3 separate regions of the Homo sapiens genome follow, and regions 1 and 2 are each linked to region 3. Evidence: fine-mapped expression QTL. A gene starts in region 3. Each other region holds a variant in brackets. All regions are shown on one strand. Distances are from middle to middle.

Region 1 (4,245 bases), 40 kb before region 3:
ATAGCATTTCATACTAGGAACATTCAAAGGAATAAAGTTAGCTGGAGAAGGGGGTCATGTTCTTTAGAAAGGACTTCATATGTCAGTGTCTACAGAAACAGTGAAAAAAGGAAAAAGAAGTAAAGAAAAATAGAAAAAATAAAAGTTTTCATATGGAAGAGGGCTTACATTTGTTTTTAATGACTCTTAGAGATACAACAAGGTAGCGACAATAGTAAGACAGAGACAGACTTTGGTTTACTGAGAACTTTTTTTTTTTTTTTTTTAAAGTCTCACTCTGTTGCCCAGGCTGGAGTGCAGTGGAGCGATCTTGGCTCACTGCAACCTCCGCCTCCCAGGCTCAAGTTATTCTTCCCGAGTAGCCAGGATTACAGGCATGCACCACTACCGCCTGGCTAATTTTTGTATATTTAGTAGAGACAAGGTTTTGCCATGTTGGCCAGGCTGGTCTCGAACTCCTAACCTCAGGTGATCCACCCGCCTCGGCCTCCCGAAGTGCTGGGATTACAGTTGTGAGCCACCATGTCCAGCCCTCCCAAGGGGAACTTTGTGAGAGAGCCATCATAAGATGCAATGAGCTACTTCAGTAGGTAGAAAACATTCCATCCATCGGCCACTTAGTGAAGATAGGCAAAAAAAATATACTCCTTGAATAGGTAGTTAAATTCCATGGCCTTTGGAACCTCCTTTCAGCCCAAGTTACTGTGATTCTGTGAATACATGCAGCTGTTCTCTAAACTGCTCACAGCTTTTCCTTCATATTATGATAAAAGAGTTTTCACACAAGAGGATGAATGGAAAGTGAAAGAAAAAAACTTGGTTGTGAGATGAGTAAAAGACAAAAAGTAGCTGGTAAGCTCTTCTCTTCTTTACAATTATTTCCATTATTATAATTTATCTGGATTTTCTAGTTCTGGCTTTAAGAGCAACATCAGAATAGCAGTTAATCTCTTTCCTACACAATTGATTTTAGAAATGCTGTTGGCTTAAGATAATTAAGTTTTCTTTTGAACCAGCAACATGGCTGAATTAGCTACAGCTTTATGGCTGTTGCTGCTTAAAGATTTAATAACTAACAATAAATACAACCCGTTTTGACTTTCTTATTTTGCCAGTATCTATTAGAATGAATTTGCCCAGAAGGAAATGATAGGCATAAATTCAGTGGAAGTTGATTTATGGGATTCTTTCTGTGGTTCCGTGACTTAGAATCCAAACAGGGTTGCATTCTGGATTCACACAGAAGCCTTTGATCTTTAGTGCTGATTACTTTGATGCCAGGATAAGTAGCCACATACAACTGTCCAAACAAGTATACTTGAAGAATTCTATATTACCGTTGTTTCTTGGTGCTTTCTAAACAAGTACCATCAGTGAAGAAGATTTTGAATACAGATGAGCCGTGAAATTTTGCGGAGCTGCTAGAAAAGAATTTTTATTGAATTGAAATTCATTTTCCCTCACCAACATGGAATTCATACTTGAAATTGATGTTATCACCGTTATTTAATCAAATAGAGAGCCTCTTTTTAATCCATTGCTTGATTTTTTTTATAGGCTAGCTTCTGAGCATTTAATACCCAAATATATGCTTCCTTTGGCTTTTTTTTTTTTTTCTTCGAGTCAGGGTCTTGCTTTGTTGTCCAGGCTGGAGTGCAGTGGTATGATCATGGCTCACTGCAGCCTTGGCCTCCTGCGTTCAAGTGACCCTCCCACCTCAGCCTCCTGAATAGCTGGGACTACAGGCGCATGGCACCATGCCCAGCTAATTTTTGCATTTTTTTTGTAGAGATGGGATTTCACTGTGTTGTCCAGGTTGGTCTTGAACTCCTGGGCTCAGGCAATCCATTCACCTTGGCCTCCCAAAGTGTTGGATTATAGGCATGAGCCACTGTGCCCTGCCTTCCCTTGGCTTTTTAACCTTCCCCTAGAGGTTACCTCTAAGTAGCACTGAGGGGAAAGTAGCTGCTAATTTTATGTAGCTTGTAGTACTGAAATCCCTCTGGAGAAGTGATCACCTAGACTCCAGTAGAAGGATATTACTGTTGTATACTATTCAAAACAGTTTAACTATAGAAGTGTCAAAGTAGATTTCAGTAAGCATAGACATCGCAAAGCCTAAGCTTCAGGCATAAAGGCTTAATACTGCCTCAAAGAATAATTATTTCAGTGCTGGGAAGGTGATAAGAGACACATATTCACTGGACCATTCATTTATCCTTCAGCAGTTTAAAGAAGCAAGGAGGCTGGGAGCACTTTGGGAGGCAAAGGCAGGCGGATTGCCCGAGCTCAGGAGTTCGATACCACCCTGGGCAACATGATGAAACCCCGTCTCTACTAAAAATACAAAAAATTAGCCAGGCATGGTGGTGGGTGCCTGTAGTCCCAGCTACTCGGGAGACTGAGGCACAAGAATCGCTTGAACCC[G/A]GGAGTCGGAGGTTGCAGTGAGCCAAGATCGCACCACTGCACTCCAGTCTGGGCGACAGAGTGAGACTCTGTCTCAAAAAAAAAATAATAATAATAATTAAAAAATAAGCAAGGAGAGTTGTAGAGATTTGGTGTCCTATTTTAGTATTACGTATTGTTAGCATTGGAATGAATTTTTAACCTTTGGAGCCAGACAGACATGGATTTGAATTCCAGGGCCATTACTTAGTACCTGTGTAATAGCCTCGACTATTTAACCTCTGAGGTTCAGTTTTTTCCTAAGGATTTTTGGATGGATCAGGGAGAATTTGTGTAAAGTGTCTGGCAAATAGTGGGCTCTCCATAAGCATCTATAAATAATGTTGATATTAACAATAATAAAATGAGGAAAGATTTTTTTCTTAGAATTTTAAATTCATGGTTTCCCAATTTCTATTAATATATACAGCTTATATTTAATTTGGCAGAGTTTGTACAAGTAAAGTCAGATCTATACTCTTTAGGATGTGTATCCTACTCACAATTTGACATAATTGATGATAACACAACTTCCTTAATTTTAACTTTTTAGTGATTTTTTAATAATTGAAACCTTCCGTAAATGATTAGGTTGAGAAATAATGAGTCAGTTTGCAAAGTGACTTGCACAAAAGATGAGCACAAATACTGGGGAAGAGAAAAAAAACAGTTGCTTTAGAAAAGTTAGAGATCTGAAATCAAATTTCAGAGATTCATGGGTGATTTTGATATTGAATTACTAATGGTTGCTTTTTTACATTTTAAAATTTCGGCTGTCTTATTTGGATTTCATGATAGTTTTATTGTCAGAACTATGTCTAGCTTTGTAATAAAATGGTTCTGAAAAGTCATGTAACAAAAATTTCTAATTTAGCCAAGCAGTGTTGCATTCCTGTAGTCCCAGTTTCTCTGGAGGCTGGGGCAGGAGGATCTGTTGAGCCCAGGAATTCGAGTCCAGCTTGGGCAAATAGCAAGACCCCCAATAAAAATTAAAAATTTCTAAGTTGGAGAATTTTATACTTACTAAGAGTTCGTTTTAAAGGGGACATTATTGCAGATATTTCTGATAAAAATGAATACTTTTGCAGAGCCATAATCACCATTTAATCTGTCGGATTTATGAGTTCATTTTGATTGTGTATGCCTACACACCTGCATTTCCACTGGAGAATGCTTGAGCAATGTTTGCTATGTTTGTTCTCTTTTGCATTCAACAACTATTTAGTTCTTGTGTACAAGATATGTTGCTAGGTGCCACTATCAAAATGAATGACCCCCTGCCTTAGGTACCTTGATTTCTGGAGGGAAACCGTTGGTTATAATATAATCTGTTGAGCTTAATGGAAGTAGGAACACAGTGCTGTGAGAGCCACAGACAAGGGTTAACTCCCCCTGAAAACGTCACAGGAATGATGATGGGTTTTAGAAGATGAACAGGAGTATGTGGTACAGAGTGGGTGAAGAACTTTCTAGGCCTTGTGGGTTTAAAGAGCAGGCAGAAGTTTGGTGTAGCCAGGGTATAGAACTAACAGGGCCAAGAAAGGAGGTGAGGCTAGCAGTAAGTCAGAGACAGGCTGTGAAGCTCGTCGTAGTGCTTATTTGCAAAATGTAGATTTGTAACCAGAGGGCAACATTGAGCTGATACAGTATTTTACTAGTTATTTGAAAAAGTACTTCTCACTATTTTTGTTTCATTTTATTTTATTTTGGGGGCTTGTGTGTGTGTGTTTTACTAGACAATTTTAAAAGTTTATTTTCTCTTTGAAGACTGAGTTTTGCTTTGTCACCCAGGCTGGAGTG
Region 2 (4,245 bases), 52 kb before region 3:
CCAAACTGTTTTTGAAAAACAATTTCAAAGTGGCTTCACTATTTTACAATTTCACCAGCAAGTTTGAGGCTTTCTATTTCTCCACATCCTCACTAATGGTTATTACCTGTCCTTTAGTTTTAGCCATTCTGATAGGTATGAAAGTATCATTGTAGTTTTGATTTGTGTCTCCCTAATAACCATCTTTTCATGTGCTTGTTGACTATTTGTATATGTTTGGAGAAATGTCTGTTCATATCCTTTGCCTGTTTTTTAATTGGGTTGTTTATCTTTCGATTGTTGAGTTATAAGTGTATTTTATATATTCTGGACACCAGTCCCAGTCCCTTCTCAGATATATGATTTGTAAACATTTTCTTCCATTCTTTGGGTTGTCCTCTTACTTTCTTGATGATGTCCTTTTTTTTTTTTTTTTTTGAGACGGAGTCTCACTCTGTCACCCAGGCTGGAGTGCAGTGGCTCGATCTCAGCTCACTGCAAGCTCCGCCTCCTGGGTTCACAGCATTCTCCTGCCTCAGCCTCCCGAGTAGCTAGAACTACAGGCACCCGCCACCACGCCTGGCTAATTTTTTGTATTTTTAGTAGAGATGGGGTTTTCACCGTGTTAGCCAGGATGGTCTCGATCTCCTGACCTTGTGATCTGCCTGCCTCAGCCTCCCAAAATGCTGGGATTAGAGGCGTGAGCCTTTTAAGCACAGAAGTTTTAATTTTGATGAAGTCCAATTTATGTAAGTCATGTGCTGCATAATGATGTTGTGGTCAGTGATAAACACATACACAACAGTGGTCCCAAGAGATTATAATACTGTATTTTCACTGCACTTTTTCTATGTTTAGATATGTTTAAATACACAAGTACAATTTTGTTACAGTTGTTACAGTATTTAACAGTAACATGCTACACAGGTTTGTAGCCAAGGAGCAATTGACTATACCATGTAGTCTAGGTGTGTAGTAGGCTGTACCACCTAGGATTGTGTAAATACATAATGATGTTTGTACATGACAAAATCACCTAGCCATGTCTTTGTCAAAAAATATTGTTAAGTGGCGTATGACAGTATTTTTCCTTTTGTTTCTTGTGCTTTTGGTGTCATATGTAAGAAATCATTGTCTTATTCAAGGTCATAAAAGATTCACTCTTGTGTTTCCTCCTAAAAGTTTTATAGTTTTAGCTCTTACATTTAGATCTATGACCTATTGTTTGTTAATTATCATACAGTTGTTCCTCAGTATCTGTTTGGGATTGGTTCCAGGAACGCTTGTAAATTCATAGATCTGTGGATGCCTAAGTCCCTGATATAAAATGGCATAGTATTTGAATATTGAATATAACCTAGTACATCCTCCTATATACTTTGTCATTTCTAGATTACTTATAATGCCTAATACAACGTAAATAGTTGTTATACTGTATTTTAAGAATATGCAGTTTAAAAATTGTTATATTGTTATTTTTTCTGAATATTTTCAATCCACGTTCCAATCCACGGTTAGTTGAATCCACAAATGTGGAGCCCGTGGAGACAAAGGGCTAACTGGATATGGTGTGAAGCTGGGGTCCAGCTTCATTCTTTTGCATTCCGTTTGCATGTTGATCCAATACCATTTTTGAAAAGACTATTCTTTCCCATTGAATGGTCTTGACATCCTTGTCAAAAGTCATATAGTTATCTTTTAACTTTTCATTTGGCTACTTTACCAAATTCT[C/G]TTTTTTAAATTTTTTATTATGAAAATTTTCAAATGTATGGACAAGTAGAAAGAGGCTAATATAATAAATACCCATACACATGGCATCTTGATTTAGTAATTAATATTTTGACAAATTTGCTTCATACACATACATACACATCTAAGTACCTTAACATTTCTGACACCTAATGTTTCACACTAAAATACTTCAGTGTGTTATCTCTAAGAATTAAGGAGATGTTTCCTATTTAATTCCAATACTATTACCACATGTAACAAAATTGTCAGTAATTCCCAAATATCATCTAAAATATCTACTCCACATTATATTTCCCCTATTGCCTTACAAAATGGTATTTTTTAAGCTCTGTTATTGAAACCAGAATCCCGCCAAAGACCATTGTATTTGGTAATGATGTATCTTATGTTATCTGGAATGGCAAACAACCCCACCTCCCTCCCTTCTTCCTGATGAATTTGACTTGTTAAAGAGACAGGGTATTTATCTTGTAACATTTCCTATCTTCTGAATTTGCCCCATTGCATCTGGATGTCATTTACCTTATTTCTTTATCTCCTGTATTTCACATAACCTGGAAGTTAGATTTAAAGGGCTGATAAGATTCCAGTTAAATATGTTTGGCAAGAATACTTTATAGATATTGCTATGTATTTTATATTGCATCAGGGGCACGTAAAGTCTGGTGGCCTCATTCTCAGTATGCTGAAATTGAGCACTTGGCTAAGAAGCTGACAACCTAATCATTCCTTTGTGAAGATTTTTGTTTTGCTTTTCCCTTGAACAAGTAATCTGTGGGTGGATATCAAGTAAAATCATTATTCTTTTTGGTCCTCGAAGTATATCTATCTTACCTTTGGCCAGTGGGAACTCTTTTAAGTTGGTTCCTGTGTCCTTTTGTTACAATCCTTTAGCATTTGAAAGTTTCCTTGTATTTTGACACAAGATGGTTCAGGCTCATTTTTATAAATTTCTTATCCCGGACCTGGAATCAGCCATTTTTCAAGGAGCCCTAATACCTGCCAGTGGACAGTGGTGTTTACAGACCATGATCTGGATGCTAGGACTTCTCAGCTGATTCTTTCGGAAATTTCTCAAGACATAATAGATAAATAATGGTAGTTTTAATTCCCCTTTTCAAGTAACCATAGCTTGTTTTTTCTTTTTGTCTTTTGCATTAGATAAAATTTCTGAAGTCATATTTCTGTAGTTCCTTATGCTGTTGCATACTTTAATTGTCTGTGCCTCTAGTGTTTAACCTCAAGTATGAGGTAGGATTTCAGTGAGATAATAGTGTTTATTATGTTAATGGTGTATCCTATTCTTAGATTACTAGCATTTATGAAATTACCTCCTTTGAATTATTGAAGTCATAAATTACATCAATAGGTTTTCAATATACTGATGCATTTCTGAACCCTGGTCAGTTCATAGTGTATCATTCTTTTATTCTACTGCTGATTTGCTGTGCTAGAATTTTACTTAGGGTCATTTGTCCGGATGCCATATTGCTTTGGAGAAACATGAGATCCCTACTGTTACTCACCTGGACCACGCCACGTGCCATTGCACTTCCAAGTGTCTGCCCTAGGAACTTCTAATTTAGTATTTGAAGTCACTGTTTGTTTCCTTTGTCAAAGAAATCTTGGTACACATGGCATATCTTTTTCACACAGCAGTCATGGAGCAGTTACCTGATATACTTTTTAAAATTAAACTTTTTATTTTAGAATAGTTTTTAGTTTACAGAAAGGTTCCAAGAATAGTAGAGAATTTCAGACCCAGGTTCCCCTGTTGTAAACATCTTAAAATATACTATGGTACGTTTGTCACAACTAGTGAATTAATATTGATACTGAATCAATATTGAATTTATTGTTATTAAAGTCCCTACTTTGTTCAGATTATCTTAGTTTTTTTCTAATACCCTTTTTCTGTTCCAGAATCCCATCCAGTTTACAAATCACATTTAGTCATCATAATTTCTTAGGTTTATCTTGGGTGTGATGTTTCTCAGACTTGACTTGTTTTTGATGACCTTAACAGTTTTGAGAAGTACTAGTTGTATATTTGGTAGAATGTCTTTCAACTTGTTGTGTGTTTGGGGAGAAAAACCCCAGAAATAAAGTGCCATTCTCATCACATCATATCGAGAGTATAGGCTATTAAGATGATTTGTTTTGTTTGTTTTTTTGAGATAGTGTCTCATTCTGTCACTTACGCTGGAGTGCAGTGGCACAAGCACGGCTCACTGCAGCCTCGACCTTCCCAGGCTCTGGTGATCCTCCCACCTTTGTTTCCCCAGTAGCTGGGACTACAAGCGCAAGCCACCACGGCTAGCTAGTTTTCGTATTTTTTGTAGAGATGAGGTTTTGCCATGTTGCCAGGGGGTTTTGCCATGTTGCCAGGGCTGGTCTGGAACTCCTGGGCTCAAGTGATACTCTCACCTCAGCCTCCTAAAGTGCTGGGATTACAGGCAGTGAGCCACTGTGCCGGCCATGATTTGTCAGTGATGATGCTAATCTTCATCACCT
Region 3 (4,245 bases):
GTTAGCATGGTAGGATGTATCTTCTTTAAATAGGGGAAATGTACTTATGAAGAAGATATTATTTAACAATCTGTCATTCAAGAAGAAAGCTGAAGCTTGTAATAATAAAAAAAAAAACCAAACACATATTCTCTCCAAGTTAAGGACTGTTTATCATAGGTGGTTCTCAAATCTTGGTTTGGGGTAAGTTTTCAAGGTTTTCTGTTTTTGTTTTGTAAGATAAGAGTGAACACACCCTCTGCTTCCTCCCAATCCTTCTCCCTTCTCCTACCCAAAGATAATCCAAACAATATATTTCTCCCCCCACCCCCTTCCTGGGATGAATTCATTAGCAAGACAAAAAGTCCTTCCTATTATTATTTGGGGTGGGCCTTCTAATTGCAATGTTCAGTGAGAGAACATAGGAAACAAGTGGTCTCTCTTTTCCGAGACGGCGTCTCGCTCTGTCGCCCAGGCTGGAGTGCAGTGGCGCGATCTCGGCTCACTGCAACCTCCGCCTCCCGGGTTCCAGCAATTCTCCTGCCTCAGCCTCCCGAGTAGCTGGGATCACAGGCGCGTGCCACCACGCCCGGCTAATTTTTGTATTTTTAGTAGAGACGGGGTTTCACCATGTTGGCCATGGTGCTCTCGAACTCCTGACCTCGTGATCTGCCCACCTGGGCTTCCCAAAGTCATGGGATTACAGGCGTGAGCCACCGCGCTCAGCCAAACCGCACGTGTGGTCTCTCTTAATAGTCCTCAGATGATGGGGGCAGGGTAGGTGGAGAAAGGGGGTGACAAGAAAAGCTACTTCTTGCAGACATTTATGAGCCAATTTTGTCAGATCTTTTGCGCCAGGATAACATTCCGTAATGGACTGGACTGAAGTAGAAAAGCAATGGCTCATAGAAAACATGGTTTAAAACCAGAAGCCACGTGATGTAACTTTATTTAGTCGGGCTGCGCTTTCATCTTTCTTTTAATAACTTAGGGAGAATAAGGGGCCCCAGTGGCAAATGCAAGCTCCCCTGCCTCCCAACCCGATTCCTCTGAGAACCTGCTGCCATCTGCCTGGACCTCCTGTAAGATGGCTCCTACGCGACCACGCTACCAGAGAATCAGCTCTACGTGCCACCAACATTGCCACCAACTGTCCATAGATCGCCTGCGTGCCTCAGCCCACTGACACTCGATGCCGGACTGGGCCAGAAGGACGACCCCATATTTGATGCCTTTTTGTCTCCCTGGACCAGAGACTCCATCCTTCCCTTTCCTCCCACGCTCATTTCTTTTTCTTTAGCCCGTGTAAAGCAGCGTGGGAGAGAAAACGAATTTCTTCTCCCTGGGGTACCCCGGAGCATCACTGCAGCCCCCAACAAGCGGCGGAGCCGGCGCGCCCCGGGCGGGCGGAGAGGCTGCGGGGACGCGCGCCCTCCGCCTCCCGCAGCTGCGCGTCCGCAGCCGAGGCGCCCGGGCCCGCAGCTTCCCGGGCCTCCCCGAGAGCCGGATCCAGCCGGCAGGTCAGGCCGGCGGCTGGGGTCCCGCGGGCGGAAGTGAGAAGGGCGGCGGGGGAGGAGGCTGCTGGCTGGGAGCTGGAATTCCCTTCCCGCCTGGCGCCGCCCGGGAGAGCCCGCGCGAGGACGCCCGCCGCGCTCCGCCGGCCCTTTTTTGGCGCTGAGGGAAAGGAGAAGGGCAGGGCCGCCGCCTCGCGGGAGCGGGCCCCGGGAGGAGGGGCCGCCGGAGAGGCCGGGCGAGCGCGGGCGGCCCTCACCTCGCCGCTCCTCCCGGGCCGCCATCCCTCGGCGCCCCGCCCGGAACCGGCGCGCGCGTAGGGGCTGGGAGGCCGGCGCGCAGATCTGGCGGTGAGCGCTGCCGCCCCGGGGCCCCCAGCCATGTCGGCCGAGGAGATGGTGCAGATCCGCCTGGAGGACCGCTGCTACCCGGTGAGCAAGAGGAAGCTCATCGAGCAGAGCGACTACTTCCGCGCCCTCTACCGCTCCGGCATGCGCGAGGCCCTGAGCCAGGAGGCCGGCGGCCCGGAGGTGCAGCAGCTGCGCGGCCTCAGCGCGCCGGGCCTGCGGCTGGTGCTGGACTTCATCAACGCCGGCGGGGCCCGCGAAGGCTGGCTCCTGGGCCCGCGCGGGGAAAAGGGCGGCGGGGTGGACGAGGACGAGGAGATGGATGAGGTGAGCCTGCTGTCCGAGCTGGTGGAGGCGGCCTCCTTCCTGCAGGTCACGTCCCTGCTGCAGCTGCTGCTGTCCCAGGTGCGGCTCAATAACTGCCTGGAGATGTACCGCCTGGCGCAGGTGTACGGGCTGCCCGACCTGCAGGAGGCCTGCCTGCGCTTCATGGTCGTCCACTTCCACGAGGTGCTGTGCAAGCCCCAGTTCCACCTCCTGGGGTCTCCTCCCCAAGCTCCAGGGGATGTCAGCCTGAAGCAGAGGCTGAGGGAGGCCCGGATGACTGGGACTCCTGTCCTCGTGGCCCTCGGGGACTTCCTGGGGGGACCCCTGGCCCCTCACCCCTACCAGGGGGAGCCCCCGTCCATGCTCAGGTACGAGGAGATGACTGAGCGTTGGTTCCCGCTGGCCAACAACCTTCCTCCCGACCTGGTCAATGTCAGGGGCTATGGGTCTGCCATCCTGGACAACTACCTCTTCATAGTGGGCGGGTACAGGATCACTAGCCAGGAGATCTCCGCTGCGCATTCCTACAACCCCAGCACCAACGAGTGGCTCCAGGTGGCCTCCATGAACCAGAAGAGGTAAGCACCCCGGCAGAGTGCTGCTGCCTTCTCATTCATTCACTTGTTCATTAGTTCATTACCCCAGTGTTTACTGAGCCAGTAAATAGGGGAGGGTGTGCTGTGGTGGAAATGACATCTTCAGGAATGTTGTTGGCCTTGGCGCTGGCAAAATTCCCAATGAACTAAGAAATTGCGAAGAGGACGTCCCCAGTGAGGTCAAGAAGTGGAGTGGTTTTTTGGCAGGTATTGTGCCTTTAGGTGAAACTGCTTTCTTTGCCTCTGTTCTTGTGAAAAAAGATGTTGTGGTTTCCTACAAGAATACTTTAAAAGAAAATTGCCCCTTAATTTTTAAAAAATTTGTCTTAGTTTTTAGGATTTGATCCTGATGATAATGATACACTGGACAGTAACCTGTAACACTGACTTTGGGGGATTTTTTTCTGATGTCAGTGACTGTGACAACAGAGTCTTCCACACTGTGATACCCATCATGATCAAGAGATAATCACTGGAAATGTATTAACGTTTGCAATAGGGGTTGCTTTTCTTATTTTTTATCCTCTCTTTTGCTTCCTTCCCTGGACAGCCATCGTCATGACCCACAGCTTGAGCCTGGAAGTGTTCAACTACAGAATTGGAATATTTTCATTTACGCAACCTTCTCCCCCTCCCATCCTGCAAATCTCTCCTGCCTCCAACAAGGGTGACTTGAAGAAAGGAAGAGGAGGAGCTTGAGGAGTGGGATGAGAGGGGAGAAGGGAAAGGAACCAGGGAAGGAATATCAAAACAAGAGCAAAGAGCATATACAGGAAGAGATGGTAGGAAATAAAGATGGTAGCGCCTAGGAGGCCTCAGCGTCATTCAGAAGCAGGGAAAAGAATCAATGTAACTCAAGAAAGGATGAAAATACCCTTTCTTCCCATCCACGTGTTTCCATCTCAATCCTCACAGGGTCCTGGTCCTGAAGTGTGGAGCAAGGAGTTGGGGAGCTCACAGCTGGGCAAAGAAAGTCTTAACAGTAACAGAGAATCCTTTATATATCTGTTTATTTGACTCGAGGGTCCTCCTCGGCCAGGGATTATTTGGGGGAAATAACTGGCTTTATTTCTCCTATAATATGAAATTCATTTTGAAAAGTATGCTTTTTCCCCTGATAATACATAGTTACAGAAAACTGGAAAATGGAAAAGAATGAAGAAGCAAAAAGATGATTATTCCTACCCGCTCTTCCTAGAGGCAGTAACCAGGTTGGCATATTTCCTGCCAGCCCATTTTTAATGCATTATTTACACCATTGAGATGATACCATATTTAAAATTTGGTATCAGAAGTGTTATTTTAAAACAAATTCTATGCACTGTAATTGAAACAACAAAGGAACATTGTGTGGCCATGGGTGGTGGTCTGATTAGGGGTGGGCGGCCCTGAGTTCTCTCACTCCTCTTGCATTCCTCTAGCTACACATCATTTGGTGCTCACCAGGCCATCCTTAGTGCCACAGTTCCTCACACTTCTTTCTT

Evidence for each region. PIP is the estimated chance that this variant, and not a neighbour inherited with it, causes the effect. A credible set is the group of variants that fine-mapping cannot tell apart.
Region 1: its variant is the best candidate, but not a certain one, in a credible set for the expression of KLHL42 in whole blood (TOPMed, PIP 0.57).
Region 2: its variant is the best candidate, but not a certain one, in a credible set for the expression of KLHL42 in aorta (GTEx, PIP 0.72).

The regions. Positions count from the first base shown.
Region 1 is chr12:27,738,666-27,742,910 of GRCh38, forward strand. All of the region lies in intron 7 of MRPS35 (mitochondrial ribosomal protein S35), which reads left to right. Among named protein-coding and RNA genes, the nearest start is that of MRPS35, 30 kb to the left of the region's middle. The variant G/A (reference allele first, on the strand shown) is at 2,428.
Region 2 is chr12:27,726,562-27,730,806 of GRCh38, forward strand. The region is part of intron 5 of MRPS35 (mitochondrial ribosomal protein S35); the gene reads left to right. Among named protein-coding and RNA genes, the nearest start is that of MRPS35, 18 kb to the left of the region's middle. The variant C/G (reference allele first, on the strand shown) is at 1,711.
Region 3 is chr12:27,778,460-27,782,704 of GRCh38, forward strand. It overlaps KLHL42 (kelch like family member 42), which reads left to right and starts at 1,774. Exons shown (of 3, transcript NM_020782.2): 1 at 1,774-2,743. The coding sequence starts at 1,872. It overlaps MANSC4 (MANSC domain containing 4), which reads right to left and starts at 1,777. Exons shown (of 4, transcript NM_001146221.5): 1 at 1,751-1,777. RefSeq lists silencers at 1,376-1,595, 1,616-1,925 and an enhancer at 1,791-2,290.